Linked DNA regions of Homo sapiens. The protein of the gene in region 1 purifies or fractionates together with the protein of each later gene. This does not show direct contact. Each region holds a gene or a part of one and is shown on either strand. Other genes may lie near its edges. The genes, in order: MITF and RBM6.

Region 1 (11,804 bases):
GACCCTTCAAATATCCCAATTCTGATTTCTCTTCTTGCTGGCCTATGTGAAGCATCATTTATTTTAACTACATTTCTCTCTGGCTGCTAAAGTTACTTCTCTTACTTTGATCTTAGCTCTGAATATTAAGTCTCTGCGCTCACTGTGGGTATCTCAGGACATTCCCCTGGGTTGCCATCTTTGGTGTTCAGACCCCAGGGATCAACTCCAGGGAATTCTCTGGGGGCTGGAACTGTCCCTCTTATGGGAGAACTTCTGTGTTGTTCTTCATGTAACCCAGATGAGGATCAATTACTTGGTGACTTGTTTAATGACCCTCCATTCACCGGTTCCACCTGATACTTGTAGATGAGGAAATGGACAAAGAGAGGCTAGATAGCCTGCCCATGATAATCCTTGATTAAAAAAAAAAAAAATAGAAGGATGCTGAGTTTATGCCATAAACAATTTAGTAGTGAGATCTCACAGATCTGTTTTACCATCGTTTATTCTCACTGAGTTAACTTTTGTAGTTTTAGAAACCTATAACTCTTTAACATAGTGTTTAAGGAAACTGACTTTGTAATCAACAGACCTAACTTTAAGTCCTGACTCTGCCATATAGTACTGTGTGGCCTAGGACAAGTTGAATTGTGTCTGTTTCAACATGTGCACAGTCTCTCTCTTACAAGGTGCTTGTCTGGGTTAAGTAAGACAATGTGTACAAACTGGGTGGGCAACACTAGGCACGTGGCAAACACTCGTGAATGGCAGCTATAATTAATGTATGATTATTTTATTTTTAAAATTGAATGCTTTTAAAAATGATACAATGGACTTTGGGGACTTGCGGGGAAGGGAGGGAGGGGGTGGGATGGGGGTGAGGGATAAAAGCCTACACGTTGGGTACAGTGTACACGGCTTGGGTGGTGGGTGTACCAAAATCGCAAAAATCACCACTAAAGAACTTATCCATGTAACCAAGCACCACCTGTTCCCCCAAAACTATTGAAATAAAAAAAAATTTTAAAAAGTTCAAAAAGAAATGGAGTGCTTTGAATATTGAATTTTCATTGAGCCTCAAATCCTAAAAATATCTGTTTTCCTCCATTTTCATCGCAGAGACATGCGCTGGAACAAGGGAACCATCTTAAAAGCATCCGTGGACTATATCCGAAAGTTGCAACGAGAACAGCAACGCGCAAAAGAACTTGAAAACCGACAGAAGAAACTGGAGCACGCCAACCGGCATTTGTTGCTCAGAATACAGGTACGCAGCCTGAGTTGTGTAAAGTTTACTGCTTTTTACCGACTTCAAGACAGTAGAAACAGGGATATAATGAGCCATAGGGGAGTTGACTTACGTGATCCTAACACAGTCAATCCTTATTATTTGTGGATTCTGTGTGTGTGAATTTGCCTACTTGTAACCCCAAAGTCAGTATCTGTGGCACTTCCACAGTCATTCTTGGACATGTGCAGAGTGGCACGTTTGAGCTGCCCATGGCACGCATTTCCAGGTGAGGTCGAATGACCCTGCCTGAGGTTGACTGTCTGCTGTCTTGTTTCAGCTCTCATCCTCTAAACAAGTGCTCCTTTCGTGGTCTGTTGAGTACTTTCTACATTTTTGTGGTTTCTGTTGGTGATTTCGCTGTTTAAAATGACCCCCAAGCATAATGCTAAAGCACTGTCTAGAGTTCCTGAGGGCAAGAAGGCCGTGATGTGCTTACAGAGAAAATACATGTGTTGGATAAGCTTCGTTCAGGCATGAGCTACAGTGCTATTGGCTGTGAGTTTAATATTCATGAGTCAACAACATATATTACATAAGGTGACCTTCAACAGAAACATACATAAAACAAGATTAAGTGTTGTGACTAGGGTCTCACAGGAACCTAACTTGTAATTCCCCTGGGAACAGTGCTTCAGTGTTCACCAATTCAGTGTTCACAGTGACTTTGTAGAACATAAAAAAAATAAGTACTGACTATACCACGTTAAACAAGAAGATGCCTTAGTATTTGTAGGGTCCGGGAAGCAGTTGATGGTCAAAATCTGTGTTTACAGGGAACTTGGGAACACCCAGAGGATCTTATATTAAGGACATAATTCCTGGAGATAGTTATAAATAGTGGAATTATAGCATATATATCTTTAACTTAAACTATACACCATTAGAAGAAGACATACTAATTTTATTAATATGTGCCATTTGTGCGTCATCCTACTCAGTGGGTATATGCACCAGTGTAAGCCGGAGATGGGGAATTCCTCTTTGGTATCAACTCCTGGAACTTCTCTCAGGGGCTTGGCGTCTCTTGTTGAGTGAAAGGGCACTACTTCCTCTGAAATGATCCTCAAAAACAGACTCCCTGTTATGGACCAAAGGGGGTTTGTGAGGGTAATTTTAATTTGCTGACTTTGAACACAACCTATCTGTAAGAGTCAGTGACACCATATCTTCTTCTTGAGTAGGCTGACCCACCTTTTACTAGATTTTGCCATAAAGCAAGGGTTGTCTTTCAACTTTTCCAGTGCAACTATTCATGGAGTTATTTTACGAAACAGCAATGAGAAGTATGACACCCTAGCGACCATTGTGTTTCACCTAGTGGTGCTCCTCCCGGACGTTGAACTTTTCAAACAGAGCAATTCACTTATAATAATGGTCTCCAGTCTTCTGAATGCTTATATTTTGAAATGCCACATCTCTCATTCACTGCAGTGATTCCTCAGCTGTGGGGTGGGGAGGTGGGAAGCCACTTCCCTGTTGGGGTGCATTTTAGATTCTGGGTAGTGAAGTAGAGGTAGTGTGTAATTTGAAAGCCCTCCTTTCCCCTCCCCTCCTCTACTTTGGCTTTTGTTGTTGGTTTTATGTTCTGTCTCTTCAATAAGTAGCTATAGGTATTTAATCTCTCGAACATAGTCTGCCTATTTATAAAAGCAGCTTGTGGGCCGGGCACGTGGCTCACGCCTGTAATCCCAGCACTTTGGGAGGCCAAGGCGGGTGGATCACAAGATCAGGAGTTCAAGACCAGCCTGGCCAAGATGTTGAAGCCCCATCTCTACTAAAAATAGAAAAATTAGCTGGGCATGGTGGCGGGCGCCTGTAATCCCAGCTACTCGTGAGGCTGAGGCAGAGAATCACTTGAACCCGGGAGGCAGAGGTTGCAGTGAGCCAAGATCGCGCCACTGCATTCCAGCCTAGGCGACAGAGTGAGACTCCATCTCAAAAAAAAACAAAAAAATAAAAATAAAAATAAAACCAGCTTGTGGCCGGGTGCGGTGGTTCACGCCTCTAATCCCAGCACTTTGAGAGGCCAAGGTGGGTGGATCACGAGTTCAGGAGTTCGAGACCAGTCTGGCCAACATGGTGAAACCCTGTCTTTACCAAAAATACAAAAAAAAAAAAAGAAAAGAAAAGAAAAGAAAAATTAGCTGGGCATGGTGGTGGATGCCTATAATCCCAGCTACTCATGAGGCTGAGGCAGGAGAACCCGGGAGGCAGAGGTTGCGGTGAGCTGAGATTGTGCCATTGCACTCCAGCCTAGGCTATAGAGCAAGACTCCGTCTCAAAAAACAAACAAAAAAAAGCAGCTTGTACTAATGTGTTGTTTCCTTCTACAAGTATTAAAATGTAATAACTATTTTGAAAGAGAAGCTAGGTTTTGTTTTATTTTAGGGTTCCAAACATGTATATTCATATGAAATACGAATATTGTGAAATATGTGCATTGGAAATTCCATGGTGACGATATCTTGGTTTTCTTCCAGTGACGGTGTGAGGCAGCCTTTAGAACTTTTGCATATCACAGAAAACATTATTAATTAGGAAAGCTCTGTGATGCAATTAAGCCAGAGTTCTCTAGATGAGATTTATCACCTTATTTAGAAATCTGAGTAATGCTTTAATCGCTGATAAATATTTTTAATTAGACAACAAAGGATTAGAGTGAGATGTTTGCCTCTCTTAATCCAACTTTATTATTCTTTTTCTGAAAAGACAATCTGCCTGTGTGGAGGTACTGTTCTTATTAGCATGTTGGTGTAGATTTACAAGAGTCCATGTTTTCAGTATGGGCCTAAGGGCTTTCTTTCATTTTCACTCTAAGTGATGCATGCAAAAGTTTTCACAGAAGAAAGAGCATGAATCCTTTATGTCAGTGGAACTGCCATTTTATTAAATAGCCCAGGGCTTTCAAATGGTGCCTGAAGAAACTTGTGTTTCTGGAGATTATGTAAAGGAACTTGAAGGTACTTGTGTGACATGTCAAGCTCCTGGCTTTTACTCATATTGTATCCAAAGAAGGATTTTGCAGACCCAAAAACCTTGAATTTAGACTGAAACGTGGCTTTGCAGGCACATATGTTTCTCAGCTTGTGGGCAGAGGTTGAGAGGCCATGTCATATGGAGAGTCCTTCCCCTCTCTGATAAGGAAAGGTGACTTGCTTCAAATTTATATTCTCTTGCTATATATTATTGTTTCACAACCGTGGAAGGGATAGCATTGGAATGGAGAAGCAGAATGCTTATCAGGAATCAATTAAAGTCTGTGTGGTTCATTTTAGGAGTGCCCAGGGATACACTCAGAAAGGAAAAAGGGAAAGAGCTTGCTTGGAAGGCATTTTGCAATGAGTTACAGGGGGAATCAAGGGTATTTAGGAAGTGTATTACCCAGCTAGTGCTGCTGTAGTGAAATGCCACTGACTGGGTGGTAAACAAGAGTTATTTTCTCATAATTCTGGAGGCTAGTTGTTGTCCAAGATCAAGTTGTCAGCAGGGTTGGTCCCTTCTGAGGCCTCTCTCCTTGGCTTGTAGATGCCTGTCTTCTCCCTGTGTGTTCACATGGTCTTTTTTCCTGTGTGTGTCTGTCCCAATCTCCTCTTCTTACAAGGACACCAGTCCTATTGGGTTTAGGCCCACTAGTAAAATCTCTTTTTAAATTAATTGCCTCTTTAAAGGCCCTATCTCCAAATACAGTCACATTCCAAGGTACTAAGGTTAGGACTTCAACATTCAAATGTTTTCCAGGACACAATTTAGCCAATAATAGGAATGTATGTGAGGAAGGAAAGGAAAAAAATTGTTCATCTTATAGATGAGAACGTACTTGTTGAGTTAAAAAAATACTTCCCCTTTGCCATGGTGAGATGGGCTAAATGATGCTTCTAAAACTTTAGTTACTGGCATAGAACTTTCACAGCTTTTGCTATCACTACCCAAATTTTTTACTTCATGGCACTCTTAGTGTTTTAGCAATCTTTTTACCATCCCCCTAGACCAAAAGAAATACCTACTCTTTTTGTTAGGTCCGAACAACTTATTAAGTATTTAGGTTCTAACAACTTGGTAGCCATTTGAAAAAATAAAACATATAAATTGAAAGGAAATAGCATTTTTATTTTGTTATTAAATAACCATATTACTTACTAACTGGATGTGTGTGTCTGTTGGGCACTGCACGACTTCTAAAGTCTTGGAATCAGATTGGACACCATCACCCCATCGCCCTTGTTTCCCAGGCCACAATGATGTTCATGTGGCACTTGTTTTCCTTCAATCACAGCAACTGCCAAAAGCTCAACTTTGCAATGATATCATGTGGTTGAAAAGTATATAGCACAGTCTGATGCTAGAAGAGAACTATCTTGAGTTTAGTAGTTCTCAGGTAGTATTGCCATTGCCCTTGAAATGTTAGGCTATCTCCAGTGCTCTGTGAGTTCATTGCAGCACACATGGGGACCTCAGTGCAAAGCTGAAGGACCATGAAAGCTGAAGGACCATGAACTCTTTACTGAATATGTTTCTTTTTTCTTTTCTTTTTTTTTTTTTTTTTTTTTTTGAGATGGTCTTTCACTCTTCTAGCCCAGGCTGGAGCGCAATGGCGCAATCTCGGCTCACTGCAACCTCCACCTCCCAGGTTCAAACGATTCTCCTGCCTCAGCCTCCCAAGTAGCTGGGATTACAGGCATGTGCCACCACACCTGGCTAATTTTTGTATTTTTAGTGGAGACGGGGTTTCAACCATGTTGACCAGGCTGATCTCAAACTCCTGACCTCAGGTGATCCGCCCCCCTCGGCCTCCCAAATAATATTTTTCTTTTATCAGCTCGCATTTAAAACTTTATTTTTGTATTTTTTAACTTATCCTCAGTGTGAACATTAATATCTGTGAGAGACCATCTCTATTTTTCATACATAATCAAATCTATAAAACACCTAAAAATTTATTTCACATACTGCCAGTGGTACTTCTCCTATACTTTAGAACATACAGAGCTCATTAATTTAAAAGAACAAAAAACTTTTATTTTGAGGATTTATTGTTTTCCAAGTATCTGATTTTTAAAAATAGACTTTATTTTTCAGGACAGTTTTTGGTTCACAGTAAAATTGAAATGAAGCTGCAGATATTTCCCATACACCTCATTCCCCCAAGCACGCACAGCCTTCCCCATTATCAACATTCCCTACCAGAGTGGCACATTTATTAGAATCAATGAACCCGCAGTGACATTTCATTATCCTCCAAAGTCTATACTTTACATTCCCTCTGGTATTGTACATTTTGTGGGTTTGGCCAAATGTCTAATGACGCGCATCTACCATTATAGTATCATATAGAGTGGTTTCACAGGCTTAAAAGTCCTCTGTGCTCTGCCTATTTCAGTGTTTTATCTTTACTCTTATTATAGGAACTTGAAATGCAGGCTCGAGCTCATGGACTTTCCCTTATTCCATCCACGGGTCTCTGCTCTCCAGATTTGGTGAATCGGATCATCAAGCAAGAACCCGTTCTTGAGAACTGCAGCCAAGACCTCCTTCAGCATCATGCAGACCTAACCTGTACAACAACTCTCGATCTCACGGATGGCACCATCACCTTCAACAACAACCTCGGAACTGGGACTGAGGCCAACCAAGCCTATAGTGTCCCCACAAAAATGGGATCCAAACTGGAAGACATCCTGATGGACGACACCCTTTCTCCCGTCGGTGTCACTGATCCACTCCTTTCCTCAGTGTCCCCCGGAGCTTCCAAAACAAGCAGCCGGAGGAGCAGTATGAGCATGGAAGAGACGGAGCACACTTGTTAGCGAATCCTCCCTGCACTGCATTCGCACAAACTGCTTCCTTTCTTGATTCGTAGATTTAATAACTTACCTGAAGGGGTTTTCTTGATAATTTTCCTTTAATATGAAATTTTTTTTCATGCTTTATCAATAGCCCAGGATATATTTTATTTTTAGAATTTTGTGAAACAGACTTGTATATTCTATTTTACAACTACAAATGCCTCCAAAGTATTGTACAAATAAGTGTGCAGTATCTGTGAACTGAATTCACCACAGACTTTAGCTTTCTGAGCAAGAGGATTTTGCGTCAGAGAAATGTCTGTCCATTTTTATTCAGGGGAAACTTGATTTGAGATTTTTATGCCTGTGACTTCCTTGGAAATCAAATGTAAAGTTTAATTGAAAGAATGTAAAGCAACCAAAAAGAAAAAAAAAAAGAAAGAAAGAGGAAAAGAAATCCATACTAACCCTTTTCCATTTTATAAATGTATTGATTCATTGGTACTGCCTTAAAGATACAGTACCCCTCTAGCTTTGTTTAGTCTTTATACTGCAAACTATTTAAAGAAATATGTATTCTGTAAAAGAAAAAAAAAATGCGGCCTTTTCATGAGGATCGTCTGGTTAGAAAACATAACTGATACCAACCGAAACTGAAGGGAGTTAGACCAAGGCTCTGAAATATAAAGTCTAATCTTGCTCTCTTTTATTCTGTGCTGTTACAGTTTTCTTCATCAATGAGTGTGATCCAGTTTTTCATAAGATATTTTATTTTGAAATGGAAATTAATGTCCTCTCAAAGTAAAATATTGAGGAGCACTGAAAGTATGTTTTACTTTTTTTTTATTTTATTTTTGCTTTTGATAAGAAAACCGAACTGGGCATATTTCTAATTGGCTTTACTATTTTTATTTTTAAATTATGTTTTACTGTTCATTTGATTTGTACAGATTCTTTATTATCATTGTTCTTTTCAATATATTTGTATTAATTTGTAAGAATATGCATCTTAAAATGGCAAGTTTTCCATATTTTTACAACTCACTGGTGGTTTTCCGCATTCTTTGTACACCCATGAAAGAAAACTTTTATGCAAGGTCTTGCATTTAAAAGACAGCTTTGCGAATATTTTGTAAATTACAGTCTCACTCAGAACTGTTTTTGGACACATTTAAGGTGTAGTATTAATAGGTTAAAACCAGGCTTTCTAGAAAGAATAAACTTACATATTTATTTTTAGGACATGAAAATAGCAATATTCTTGGAGATTGATAACCATAGCATTAATACGCCCATTATGGTCATTTAAATTGGGGTTTATTTCAGCAAACTTGTTGAATTTATTTTTAAGAAAGAAATACTGTATTGGGAAGTTACTGTTACTTGATAACAATGTTTTAACAAGAAGCAATGTTATAAAGTTAGTTTCAGTGCATTATCTACTTGTGTAGTCCTATGCAATAACAGTAGTGTTACATGTATCAAGCCTAGATGTTTTATACAGATGCCATATAGTGTTATGAGCCAGGCTGTTGAATGGAATTTCTCAGTAGCAGCCTACAACTGAATAGCAAGTGGCATAAAGCATATCCATTCAGAATGAAGTGCCTTAAATATAGCAGTAGTCTTTTTTGGACTAGCACTGACTGAACTGTAATGTAGGGGAAAGTTTCATGATGGTATCTATAGTCAAGACGAACATGTAGCATGGTGCCTATGTAGACAATATAAGAGCTTCCAATTTTCCTTCAGATATTTTTAATATTAAATATATTTTAGTGACAGAGTGCCAACTTCTTTCATCAGGAAACCTTATTCAGGAGGGTTTTTAAAAAGTGTTTAAATGTCAAATGTGAATTGGTGATGGGTGATGGAGGGTTCAGAGAGGAGTGATCGTCAGATGTGTGAATGGACGGTTTAGGTGAAAATAATCAACTGCATAGTTCCCATGCACGCTGGGCAATGAGAATCCTTGGAAACATTGGTGATGCTATCAGTTTTATAGCTTTATTTCTTAAGGGGGTAGGGAAAATTAGTTCCCATTCTTTCAACCCCCTTAACTGTATAGCTCTTTTCCTAGAATAGTGACGCAAATCTGCATGAACAGCTAATTGTACCATAGTGTTCATTGATACAATCATAGCATTGTCTATTTTTCTCTTCATATTTATATGGGGGGGAGGGCGCTGGATGCAAAAGTTGAAGATCGTGATGCTATGATGTTAGTTTTCCTTAGCTGATTTTGAGGGTTTTTAAAAATAAAGCAAGGTTGACTAACCTACGGCCACGGGAACAGGACCATGGTTAAGCAACCATATAGAAAGCTTTGTTGAAAGAAAGTATGGCATCTTGTACCACTGCCCTGACTGTCACAACTCCTAACCTTGCCATTGCCTGCCTCCCCCTCCCCTTCTCCTTAAGAGACAATTTCTGCAGGTGGCAGGTGAGCAAGCCCAGGAGAATGCTGCAATCTTGGGGGTGGTTTTATTTATTTCTTTTTTGCCAAATAGAGTGTGGATTCATTTCAGGGGCTAGCTAAGCCAAGAGGCAGTGGTTTGGGCTTGTTGTTTGTAACAAGAAAATGATCCACACCACTCCCCCGATTCCCGGGTGCAGAATTGTAACTCGGGGTTGGGCCTCTATATGGAGTGACCAAAATGCCAAAATTGTCCATCTGCCTCTGAGTAGGGCAATGGAAATACCAAACCTTCTGACTTTGCCAAAAAGCATACAAGCAACCTGGTCATACATAGGATGACAAAATTCTTTCTGGTTGTTTTTAAACAATAAAGCAATAAGAACAAATACAATACATAGGAAGTTAAAAGCACAAAGGAATGAACTTATTAATATTTTTGAAAAATGCACTGGGAAAAAGTTGATGTCAATAACAGTATAAAACAGCCCTATTTCTTGATAAAAAATGACAAATGACTGTCTCTTGCGGATGCTTGGTACTGTAATGTTAATAATAGTCACCTGCTGTTGGATGCAGCAATAATTTCTGTATGGTCCATAGCACTGTATATTATGGATCGATATTAATGTATCCAATGAAATAATCGACTTGTTCTTGATAGCCTCATTAAAGCATTTGGTTTTTCACATAGTGGTGGCCTATTGTGTTAATGCCAATTTTGAATGCTATCTGCCATATCAAAAAATGGTAGTGCACATTTTCTTCTGATTTAATGAATAACAAATTGCATGAAAATTTAGAAAATGCCAGTAAGTACTTTTTTTGTTTAAAATGCCACTCTAAGATGTTACTTTTTGGTTTTAAACATTTTTGATTACTTTTTGACTTACACTCAGATGAGGTGTAATTATGCACCTTTTTTATCCCCCTCTGAATTTGGGGAGATTTTAAACTCCCAAATGCCAAGACTTCATTTTAGATATAGGAGTTTTATTTAAAATGTTTCATTGAGAGGTGGCTTTAAAAAAGAGAAATTGTCAGAGAAACCCTTGCATATTTACAGAAAAGATATTGGGTTTTTAAAATACAAATTTACAATAATGAAAGCTTAATATACCCAGGCTGCCAGCTCCTGGTTGCCTTTTTTTTTTAATACACTACTTAAGAATCATTTGATAAATGTTGGATTTGAATTGGGAAGTGTCAGACAAAACATGTCTTTATTCCCTAGCTAGACCTTAAACTTCTGCCCTTTTAAAAAATATATTCTGGCTTAACCTCTGGAGAAAATGAGCAAGAAACTTCCTGTAATGCTTCTGATCTGACTGTCAGCTTTTTCCTACTTTTAATTTTCTTCTTAAATTGTAATATACAATAATCAAGGCCTTTCTTTTTTAGACCTATTTGAATTATTTATATTTTCCCTAGAAGTATAACTGTAGGATCCCTTAAAAACATGTAAAAGTAGAAAGATTTCCTTTTGGAACAAGAGAGAATATTCTGGGCAAAATCAAAAGCAAGTAAGTTGAAAATTGGGGCTTTTCATCTCCGGGGGATCTGCAGCAATACCTTCACCCACATTTCTGTCCTGATATTTACCAGTAAATAGTCATTTCACAGCCCATAAGAATCCTTCATCTTTAGCTTCCCCCACTTACACACAGACACACACACACACACACACACACACACACACACAATTAACGTGTTATAGTGGTGTTACCTGAAGATTAGACATTTGCCTACAGTGTGTATGACTTCATTTGATATCCACAGAGTTACATTTCTTAAAATTTTATTAAGCCAATTCACTTTCAAATAAATTATATCCGTTCAATCACCACACATGACCTCTCAGTTAATCTTCCTGGGTTTGAATCTTATCTCTGCCCATGTCTAGCTCTATGATTTTGCGCAAGTTATTTGGCCTCCCTGTGCCTCAAAAGTAGCTACCACATAGTGGTCTTGTGAAGACCATTCGAGTTAATAATACTAGAATTTGTGCTTGACAGCACATAGTAAATGCTTAGTAAATGATAGCTTTTCTTATAATAATCACCTTCATTACTAAAATGGAAAATACTTTCTGGACCAACTAAAATCATCATATGTATTAGCAGTGACATGCACACCACATTTGGCAAAGCACTGAATTACAACATAGATTGAAGACATGTGTAAACTGGCCAGGGGACAGAAGCCACAGGCTATTTAGGAGAAAGGAACCTTGCTGTTTGTAAGACCTAGGGTAGGAATATTTTAGAGAATTAGTAATAAACTCAAAGTATCACATTAAAATATCTTCAGCACAAATGACCTAAAATTTAAA
Region 2 (11,804 bases), about 20 Mb from region 1:
GACCAACCTGGGCAACACAGCAAAACCCCCATCTCTACAATTTTTTGGTTTAAATGAAAAGACATCCCACAGAATGGGAGAAAATTTGTGCAAATTACATATTTGGTAAGTGACTTGTATCTAAAATATATAAAAAATGATTTCAACTCAGTAACAAAAAGAAAAATAAGCCAGGAGCAGTGGCACACGCCTGTAATCCCAACACTTTGGGAGGCCAAGGCAGGTGGATCACCTGAGGTCGGGAGTTTGAGACCAGCCTGACCAACATGGAGAAACCCTGTCTCTACTAAAAATACAAAATTAGCTGGCGTGGTGATGCATGCCTGTAATCCCAGCTACTCGGGAGGCTGAGGCAGGAGAATCACTTGAACCCGGGAGACAGAGGTTGCGTTGAGTCGAGATGCACCATTGCACACCAGCCTGGGCAACAAGAGCAAAACTTCGTCTCAAAAAAAAAAAAAAACAAAGGATAAGTAACCTAATTTAAAATATAGTAAAAGTGGCTGGGCACAGTGCTCATGTCTTTAATCCCAGCACTTCAGAAGGCTGAAGTGGGCAGATCACTTGAGGTCAGGAGTCTGAGACCAGCCTGGCCAACATGCCAAAACCCTGTCTCTATTAAAAATACAAAAACTGGGGCCAGGCGCAGTGGCTCATGCCTGTAATCCCAGCACTTTGGGAGGCCAAGGCGGGTAGATCACGAGGTCAAGAGATCTAGACCATCCTGACCAACATGGTGAAACCCCATCTCTACTAAAAATACAAAAATTAGCCATGGTGGCACACACCTGTAGTCCTATATACTCGGGAGGCTGAGGCAGGAGAATCACTTGAACTCGGGAGGCAGAGGTTGTACTAAGCCAAGATCGTGCCACTGCATTCTAGCCTGGGTGACAGAGCAAGACTCCGTCTCAGACAAAAAAATAAAAATAATAATAATAACAAGGCAGGGCATGGGGGCTCACACCTATAATCCCAGCACTTTGGGAGGCCGAGGCAGGTGGACCACAAGATCAGGAGATCAAGACCAGCCTGACCAATGTGGTGAAACCCCGTCTCTACTAAAAATACAAAAATTAGCCAGGCGTGGTGGCGGGCACCTGTATTCCCAGCTACTTGGGAGGTTGAGGCAGAAGAATCACTTGAACCTGGGAGATGGAGGTTGCAGTGAGCCGAGTTTGTGCCACTGCACTCCAGCCTGGGCGACAGGGCGAGACTCCACCTCAAAAAAACAGAACAACAAAAAAATAATAATAATAATAATAATAACTGGAGGCTGAGGCAGGAGAATCACTTGAACTTGGGAGGCAGAGGATGCAGTGAGCCAAGATCGTGCCACTGCACTCCAGCCTGGGCAACAGAGTGAGACTTCATCTCAAAATACATAAATAAATAAATAAATAAATAATAAATAAAATAAAATATAGTAAAGGCCAGGCACAGTGGCCCTTGTCTGTAATGCCAGCACTTTGGAAAGCTGAAAAAGGTAGATTGCTTGATGCTTGAGCTCAGGAGTTCGAGACCAGCCTGGGCAACATGGCAAAACCTTGTCTCCACACACACACACACATATACACACACACAAATCAGCCGGACAAGGTGGAACACATCTGTAGTCCCAGCTACTGAGGACGCTGAGGTGGGAAGATGGCTTGTGCCTGGGAGGCAGAGGTTGCAGTGAGCCAAGATCACACCACTGTACTCCAGCCTGGGCAACAGAGCAAGACCCCATCTCAAAAAACAAACAAACAAAAAGAAATAGTAACTGCTGATTCATCCCTCACACCATCCCTGACAACTATTTTCTGTTTCTATGATTTTCACTACTCAAAGTGTCTAAGTGAAATTATATGGTATTTGTCTTTTACATGACTGGCTTATTTCACTTAGCATAATATCCTCAAGGTTCATCCATGTTGTAGCATATGTCAGAATTACCTTCCTTCCTAACACTGAATAATTTTTCAGTTATATGTACATACCACATTTTCCTTATCTATTCATCCATCAATGAATAGTTGGGTTGCTTCCACATTTTAGCTAATGTGAATAACGCTGTTATGAACATGGGTACAAATATCTCATCGAGACTCTGTTTTTCTTTTTCTTTGTTTTCAATTATTTTGGATATATATCCAGAAGTAAAATTGTTAGATCACATGGTAATTCTATTTTTAATGTTTTGCCTTTCATTCTTTCTGTTTTTTTTTTTTGAAACAGTCTCCCTCTGTCACCCAGACTGTACCACAGTGACATGATCTCAGCTTACTGCAACCTCCGTCTCCCGGATTCAAGCGATTCTCCTGCCTCAGTCTCCCGAGTAGCTGGGATTACAGGCATGCACCACCACACCCAGCCAATTTTTGTATTTTTAGTAGAGACGGGGTTTCACCATGTTGGCCAGGCTGGTCTTGAACTCCTGACCTCAAATGATCCCACACCTTGGCCTCCCAAAGTGCTGGGATTACAAGCCTGAGTCACCACGCCTGGCCTTGCCTTTCACTCTTGATTAATAAAAACATTCCTAACAAATGCTTTCACTCTGGTCTATCTTGCAAAGAACCAGGAATTGCACCTCTAGCAGCACAGTACCAATATCCCAGGCCATCCTTCTTAATCATGACTTTAGCTCCAAAAAACAATGAAACAGAACCAGGGGTCTTATTCTAGTAGTTTTAGCTGTGGTATGCAGCAGCTTGATCCTGCTTTAAACACTCTTAATTTTTTCCCAAAGTAAATGTTGTGGGCTACACAGGACATTCAGCTAAGAGCATCAAGGAGACACCAAGAAGCAAGGGTTACTCTGACCGCCTACCCACTCCCTGGATCCAACTACAAGCTTTTAAACAGTAGCAACTTTAATATGCACTCAAGAACTGGAATTAGTGGCTGCTAGAAGCACCCTTGCCCCCCAAAATATCTCGATTTGAAAATTTTAAGTGTAGTCTGGGCCAGTGGCTCATGCCTGTAATCTCAGCACTTTAGGAGGCGGAGGCAGGCAGATCACTTGAGACCAGGAATTCAAAACCAGCCTGGCCAATATGGCGAAACCCCATTTCTACTAAAAATACATAAATTAGCTGAGCGTGGTGGTATACACCTGTAGTCCCAGTTACCCAGAAGGCTGAGAATAAAATAAATAAAATAAAAAAATAAAAAGGCTGGGCGTGGTAGCTCAGGCCTGTAATCCCAGCACTTTGGGAGGCGGGCGGATCACGAGGTCAGGAGATCAAGACCATCCTGGCAAAGACGGTGAAACCTTTTCTCCACTAAAAATACAAAAAATTGGCTGAGCACTGTGGCTCACGCCTGTATTCCCAGCACTTTGGGAGGCCAAAGTGGTCAGATCACAAAGTCATAAGATTGAAACCATCCTGGCCAACTGTTTCTACTAAAAATACAGAAATTAGCAGGGCATGGTGACAGGCGCCTGTAGTCCCAGCTACTCGGGAGGCTGAGGCAGGAGAATCGCTTGAACCCGGGAGGCAGAGGTTGCAATGAGCTGCGATCACACCACTGCACTCCAGCCTCGGGGACAGAGTGAGACTCCGTCTCAAAAAAAACAAGCAAACAAAAAAAAATGTTGTCCTGAAGGATTTTCCTCTCTGGGAGAATGTACTTCCGTTAAGTTTCAAATGAAGTGTTTTCTTTGATAAAGTAAGAGGGGGTAAGTAGGGGGAGGTAAGTAAAAAGAAGAATCAACAAGACCTATTCTTTTTATTTCATAATTTTTTATGATTCAGCAAAGCATTAACAAATGAAGAAGATTAAAGAATTTAAAAAGAAAAAAATAAAAATAATAAATTCTTGTATAATTATGGTAAAATATTTGGGTATGACCAGGCGTGGTGGCTCACACCTGTAGTCCCAGCACTTTGGGAGGCTGAGGCCAGCGGATCACAAGGTCAGAAATTTGAGACCAGCCTGGCCAATATAGTGAAACTCCATCTCTACTAAAAATACAAGAAATTAGCCAGGCGTGGTGGCAGGTACCTGTAACCCAGCTACTTGAGAGCCTGAGGCAGGAGAATTGCTTGAACCCAGGAGGCAGAGGTTGCAGTGAGCCAAGATCACGCCACAGCACTCCAGCCTGGGCGACAGTGCAAGACACCATCCCAAAAAAAAAAAAAAAAAAAAATTGGGTATGTAAATAGTCTCACTCTGTTGCCCAGGCTGGAGTGCAGGGTGCAATCTCAGCTCACTGCAACCTCTACCTCCTGGGTTCAAGCAATTCTTTTTTTTTTTTTTCTTTTTTGAGACAGAGTCTCACTCTGCTGCCAATCTAGAGTGCAGTGGCGCAATCTTGGCTCACTGCAACCTCCACCTCCTGGGTTCAAGTGATCCTCCTGCCTCAGCCTCCCAAGTAGCTGGGACTAGGTGCGCGCCACCACACCCAGCTAATTTTTTGTATTTTTAGTAGAGACTAGGTTTCATGACATTGGCCAGGATGGTCTCGATCTCTTGACCTGCCTCGGCCTCCCAAAGTGCTGGGATTACAGGCGTGAGCCACAGCACCAGGCCTCAAGCAATTCTTGTGCCTTAGCCTCCTGAGTAGCTGGAATTACAGGCACACACCACACCCAGCTAATTTTTGTATTTTAGTAAAATCGGGGTTTCACTATGTTGCCTAGGCTGGTCTCGAACCCCTGAGCACAGGCAATCTGCCCACCTCAGCCTCCTAAAGTGCTAAGATTATAGGCGTGAGCCACCGTGCCTGGCCTATTTTAACCATTTTTAAGTGTACCATTTAGCTACAGCCATCACAACAGTGCAGTAAGGACATAAAGATAGACATAAAGACCAATCAACTGAATGGAGAGACCAGAAATAAATCCTCACATATATGGTCAATTTTCTTTTTTTTTTAAGACAGATTCTCATGTCTCGCTCTGTCGCCCAGGCTGGAGGGCAGTGGCGCAATCTCAGCTCACTGCAGCCTCCACCTCCCAGTTCAAGCGATTCTCCTGCCTCAGCCTCCCGAGTAGCTGGGATTACAGCCAGGCACCACCATGCCCAGCTAATTGTGGTATTTTTAGTACAGACGGGATATTGCCATGTTGGCAAGGCTAGTCTTGAACTTTAGTCAACTGATTTTCAACAAAGGTGTCAAGACCATCCAATGGGGAAAGTACAATCTTTTTCCCAAATGGAAAATGGTACTCCGAAAACTGAATATCCACATGCATAACAATAAAGTGGGACTCTTACACAACAAAAATATATAAAAAATTAACTCAAATTGGATCAAAGACCCAAACGTAAGCGCTAAAACTATAAAATCTTAGGGGAAAAATTTCATGACTTTCGATTGGTAATATTTGCAGATGAGGCACAGATTTTAAAAAAAGAAGATAAATTGGACTTCATCAAAATGAAAACCTCTGTGCATCAAAAGACACTATCAACAGAGTATAAAGACAACCACAGAGAGAAAATATTTGTAAGTCAAATATCTGACAAGGAATTAATATCTAGAGTGTATAAAGGACTCCTAAAACTCAACAACACAGACAAAAACCTAATTTTATTTTATTTTTAGAGACTGGGCCACTCTGTCACCCAGGGTAGAGTCCAGTGGTGCAATCACAGCTCACTGCACCCTCAAACACCTGGGCTCAAGAGATCCACCTACCTCAGCCTCCTGAGCAGCTGGGAATACAGGTGTGCACCTGCACACCCAGCTCAAAACCCCCCCCCCCCCCCTTTTTTTTTTTGAGACGGAGTCTCGCTCTGTCGCCCAGGCTGGAGTGCAGTGGCTCAATCTCTGCTCACTGCGAGCTCTGCCTCCCAGGTTCACACCATCCTTCTGCCTCAGCCTCCCGAGTAGCTGGGACTACAGGCGCCTGCCACTGCGCCCGGCTAATTTTTTTTTTTTTTTTTTTTTGTATTTTTAGTAGAGACAGGGTTTCACCGTGTTAGCCAGGATGAAAAACCCCATTTTAAAATGGTCAACAAAAGACATGAATAGATACTTCTCCAAAAGAGAATATGCAAATAGCCAATAAGAACATGAACAGACGCTCAACATCACTTATCATCAGGGAAATGCAAATCAGAAACCACAATAAGATACCACTTCACATCCACTAGGATAGCTACTAATGAAAAAAAAAAAAACGAAACAGAAAATAGGCCGGGTGAGATGGCTCACACCTGTAATCCCAGCACCTTGGGAGGCCAAGGTGGACAGATCACTTGAGGTCAGGAGTTCAAGACCAGCCTGGCTAATATGGTGAAACCCTGTCTCTACTAAAATACAAAAATTAGCCAGGCGTGGTGGCACACGCCTGTAATCCCAGCTACCCGGGAGGCTGAGGCACAAGAATTGCTTCAATCTGGGAGGCAGAGGTTGCAGTGAGCCGAGATCATGCCACTTCACTCCGGCCTGGGCAACAGAGTGAGACTCTGTCTCAAAAAAAAAGAAAATGCCAGGCGCGGTGGCTCATGCTTATAATCCCAACACTTTGGGAGGCCAAGGCTGGCGGGTCACCTGACGTCAGGAGTTCAAGACCAGCCTGGCCAACATGGAGAAACACCATCTCAACTAAAATGCAAAAATTAGCTGGGCACGGTGGCGGCTGCCTGTAATCCCAGTTACTCGGGAGGCTGAGGCAGGAGAATCGCTTGAACCCGGGAGGTGGAGGTTGCAGTGAGCCAAGATTGTGCCACTGCACTCCAGCCTGCGTGACAGAGCGAGAATCTGTCTCCAAAAAAAAAAAAGAAAGAAAATAACAAGTGTTGGCCAGGATGTGGAGGATGCAGAGAAACTGAATTGAAACCTATATTACACAGTATGCTAGGACTGCCATAACAAAATACCATGGAGTGGAAGGCTTAAGCCACAGAAATTATTCTCACAGCTCTGGAGGCTGGGAGTCCAAGATCAAGGTGTCAGCAAGGTTTGTTTTAGGTGAGGTCTCTCTCCTTGGCTTGCAGGCAGCCCCCTTCTACCTCTGTCCTCATGCAGCTTTTTCTCTCTGTACACGCACTCCTGGTATCCAGTCCTTTTCTTACGAAGACAGCAGTCCTGCTGGATTAAGGTCTCATCCTTATATCTTCTTTTTTTTTTTTTTTTTTTTTTTTTGAGATGGAGTCTCGCTCTGTCGCCCAGGCTGGAGTGCAGTGGCGCGATTTTGGCTCACTGCAAGCTGTGCCTCCCGGGTTCACGCCATTCTCCTGCCCCAGCCTCCCCAGCAGCTGGGACTACAGGTGCATGCCGCCACGCCCGGTTAATGTTTTGTATTTTTAGTAGAGACGGGGTTTCACCGTGTTGGCCAGGATGGTCTCGATCTCCTGACCTTGTGATCCGCCTGCCTCAGCCTCCCAAAGTGCTGGGATTACAGGCATGAGCCACCCGCGCCCAGCCCCTTATGATATCTTCTAACTTTTTAATTTCTCTGTAAAGGTCCTATTTCCAAATACAGTCACACTGGGGCTTAGGGCTTCAACACGTGAATTTTCAGGGGGACACAATTCAGTCTATAACAAAACCTTTGTACACTGCTAACAGAATGTAAAATGGTGCAACCAGTGTGGAAAACAGTAAGGCAGTTCCTCAAAAAATGATACATAAAGCCTGGGCAACCTAGCGAAATCCCACAGCTACAAAAAAATAAAAAAATTAGTTAGGCATGGTGGCATGCACCTGTAGTCTCAGCTACTTAAGAGGGTGAGGTGAGAGGATAGCTTGAACTGAGAAGGTCAGGGCTGCAGAGAACTGTGACTGCACCACTGCACTCCAGCCTGGACAACAGAGCAAGACCCTGTCTAAAAAAAAAAAAAAAAAAAATTGGCCGGGCGCGGTGGCTCACGCCTGTAATCCCAGCACTTTGGGAGGCCAAGGCGGGCAGATCATGAGGTCAGGAGATGGAGACTATCCTGGCTAACACGGTGAAACCCCGTCTCTACTAAAAATACAAAAAATTAGCCGGGCGTGGTGGCGGATGCTGTAGTCCCAGCTACTCGGGAGGCTGAGGCAGGAGAATGGCAAGAACCCAGGAGGCGGAGCTTGGAGTGAGCCGAGATCACGCCACTGCACTCCAGCCTGGGCGACAGAGCAAGAATCCGTCTCAAAAAAAAAAATTTAAAAAAAAATTACACATAGAATTACCATTTGCTCTGTCAATTGTCGATTCCATTTCTGAGTATATATATTCCCAAAAGAAATGAAAGTAAAGACTTGATATTTGTGGCTGGGCGCGGTGGCTGACACCTGTAATTCCACCACTTTGGGAGGCCGAGGCAGGTTGATCACCTGAGGTCAGAAGTTCAAGACCAGCCTGCCCAACATGGCGAAACTCCTTCTCTACTAAAAATAAAAAAATTAGCTAGGCATGGTGGCGCACATCTGTAATCCCAGCTACTCGGGAGGCTGAGGCAGGAGAATGCCTTGAACCCAGGAGGCAGAGGTTGCAGTGAGCCAAGGTCGCGCCACTGCACTCCAGCCTGGGTGACAAGAGCGATACTGTCTCACAAAAAAAAAAAAAAAAAAGATATTTGTACACTGATATTCATAGCACCATTATATTCACAAGAGCAAAAAGGTGGAAACAACCCAAATGTCCATCAATAGATAAATGGATAAACAAAATGTGGTATATATGTATAATGGAATATTACTCAGCCTTAAAAAGGAATAAAATTCTGATACATACTACAAGATGGATGAATCCTGAAGATATTATGCTAAGTAAAATAAGCCATACACAAAAGATCAAATATTATATGATTCCACTTACATGAGATACCTAGAGTAGTCAAATTCATAGAGACAGAAAGCAGAATGGTGATTGTCAGGGGAGGAGAGAATAGGGAGTTACTATTCAATGGGTACAGAAACTCAGTTTGGGAAGATGAAAAAAGTTCTGAAGCTGGATTTTTATTATGGTTGCACAAAAAGAAGAATGTACTTACTACTACTAAGTAGCACACTTAAAAATGGGTAAAAAGGTACAAACAAGCAAAAACCAAGAAAACACAACGAGATACCACTTCACACCCATTAGGGTGGCTATCATCAAAACACACAAATAAAAAACCACATATACACACACAAATTTATCAAAAAAGGAAAAACAGAAAATAAGTGTTGGGGAGGATGTGGGAAAATTGGAACCCTTGTGTATTACTGGTGGGAATGTAAAACGATGCAGCCATTGAGGAAAACAGTATGGTGGGTCCTCAAAAAGCTAAACATATAATAACCAAGTATCAACTGGGTGCAGTGGCTCATGCCTGTAATACCAGTACCTTGAGAGGCCAAGGAGGGAAAATGGCTTGAGGCCAGGAGTTTGAGACCAGCATAGGCAACATAGGGAGACCCTGTCTCCACAAAAAAATTAAAATAAAAAAATTATGGGCCAGATGTGGTGGCTCATGCCTGTAATGCCAGCACTTCGGGAGGCCAAGACAGGAGGATCACTTGAACTCAGGAGTTCGAGACCACCCTAGACAACAAGGCAAGACTTCATCACAAAAAATAAAAATTAAACAAAAAAATTAGCTGGTTGTGGCAGCCCATGCCTGTAGTCCCAGCTACTCAGGAAGCTGAGGCGGGATGACTGCTTGAGCTCGAGTTCGAGGCTGCAGTGAGCCATGACTGTGCCACTGAACTCCAGCCTGGGCAACAGAGCAAGACCCTGTCTCAAAAAAAAATAAATAAAATAATTAATAATAATAATAATTACCATATAGCAATTTCCCTTCTGGGTATATACCCAAAAGAATTCAAAGCAGGGACTCAAAGAGATATTTGTACACCAATGATCACAGCATCATTATTTACAATAGTCAAAAGGCAGAAGCAACCCAAGTGTCTGCTACAAATGAATTAATAAACAAAATGTAGTGTACACACACAACGGATTAAGCCTTAAAAAGGAATGAAATTCTGATACACAGTACAACATGGATCAACCTTGAAACCATTACACTAAGTGAAATAAACCAGACACAAAAAAGGACAATACTGTATGATTCCATTTAGTATTTGCAGTACCTAGAACAAGCACACTCACAGACAGACACAAAGTAGATTAGAGATTAAGAGGAGGAAATGGGAAGTTAACTTGTTTAATGGTTACAGTTTCTTTTTTTCTTTTTTTTTGAGATGGAGTCTGGCTGTGCAGCCCAGGCTGAAGTGCAATGGCATGACCTCAGCTCACTGCAACCTCTGCCTCCTTAGTAGCTGGTGTTACAGATGCATGCCACCATGCATGGCTAATTTTTGTATTTTTAGTAGATACGGGGTTTCACCATGTTGGCCAGGCTGTTCTTGAACTCCTGAACTCAAGTGATCTGCCCACGTTGACCTCCCAAAGTGCTGGGATTACAGGCGTGAGCCACCATGCCCTCCCTGGTTACAGAGTTTCTGTTTGAGATACTAAAGTTTCAGAAATAGTGGTATTGCTTGTACTACATTGTGAATGTAATTAATACCATTGAATTGTATACTTTTTTTTTTTTTTTTTGAGATGGAGTCTCGGAGTCTCGCTCTGTTGCCCAGGCTGGAGTGCAGTGGCGCAATCTCGGCTCACTGCAAGCTCCGCCTCTCGGGTTCACACCATTCTCCTGCCTCAGCCTCCTGAGTACCTGGGACTACAGGCGCCCACCACCACGCACGGCTCATTTTTTGTATTTTTAGTAGAGATGGGGTTTCACCGTGTTAGCCAGGATGGTCTCGATCTCCTGACCTCGTGATCCGCCCACCTCGGCGTCCCAAAGTGCTGGGATTACAGGCGTGAGCCACCGTGCCTGGCTGAATTGTATACTTAACAATGGTTTAAAGAGCAAATTTTGTTAAAATATACATAAACATACATAAAAATATATATTTACCACAATTTATTTAATTGATTTTTTTTTTTTTGAGACAGTCTTGTTCTGTGGCCCAGGTTGGAGTGCAGTGGCACTATCTCCCCTTACTACAACCTCTACCTCCCCGGCTCAAGCGATTTTTCCATCTCAGCCTCCTGAGTAGTTAGGGCTAACAGGAGCATGCCACCACGCCTGGCTAATTTTTTTTTTTTGTATTTTTTGTAGAGACAGGGTTTTGCGATGTTGCCCAGGCTCACAATTTGTTTTAGAAATACTATAACAGGGCCGGGCACGGTGGCTCACGCCTGTAATCCCAGCACTTTGGGAGGCCAAGGCAGGTGGATCACCTGAGGTCAGTAGTTCAAGACCAGCCTGGCCAACATAGCGAAACTCCGCCTCTACTAAAAAAATACAAAAAATTAGCTGGGCATAAGGCGAAACGCTGCCTCTACTATGTTGGTTTTTGTTGAGTTTTGCGGGTTTTTTTTTTTTTTTTTTTTTTTTTTTTTTGAGACAGAGTTTCACTCTTGTGGCCCAGGCTGGAGTGCAATGGAGCAATCTCAGCTCACCGCAACCTCCGCCTCCCAGGTTCAAGCGATTCTCCTGCCTCAGCCTCCCAAGTAGCTGGGATTACAGGCATGTGCCACCATGCCCGGCTAATTTTGTACTTTTAGTAGAGACGCGGTTTCTCCATGTTAGTCAGGCTGGTCTCGAACTCCCCACCTCAGCCTCCCAAAGTGCTGGGATTACAGGTGTGAGCCACCAGGCTCGGCCTGGTAATAGAATTCTATAAGGAAAGGTGCTACAACTATCCAGAGAGACCTGGGACCTGTCCTGCAGGTTAGGTATCTAGTTAGATGCTAGTTTCTGAGACAAGGTTCAAATTCAACTTTTGTGTTTCACCAAAATGGTAACATATTATTTAGTTACTTTCTTCACTGCCAGTCCTACCATCACGCACCAGCTCTTGACACCTCTCGTTAGAGACC

The links.
Region 2: the proteins of MITF (region 1) and RBM6 purify together in Homo sapiens (affinity purification with mass spectrometry; 2 studies listed by BioGRID and IntAct, with this or other methods). This does not show direct contact.

Annotation. Positions count from the first base shown.
Region 1 is NC_000003.12:69,958,172-69,969,975, forward strand, and holds the end of MITF (microphthalmia-associated transcription factor), read left to right. Parts: intron 1-1,101; coding exon 1,102-1,249; intron 1,250-6,675; coding exon 6,676-7,077; 3' UTR 7,078-10,161; downstream 10,162-11,804. UniProt on the Homo sapiens protein: Transcription factor that acts as a master regulator of melanocyte survival and differentiation as well as melanosome biogenesis.
Region 2 is NC_000003.12:49,941,162-49,952,965, reverse strand, and holds part of RBM6 (RNA-binding protein 6), read right to left. Parts: intron 1-11,804. UniProt on the Homo sapiens protein: Specifically binds poly(G) RNA homopolymers in vitro.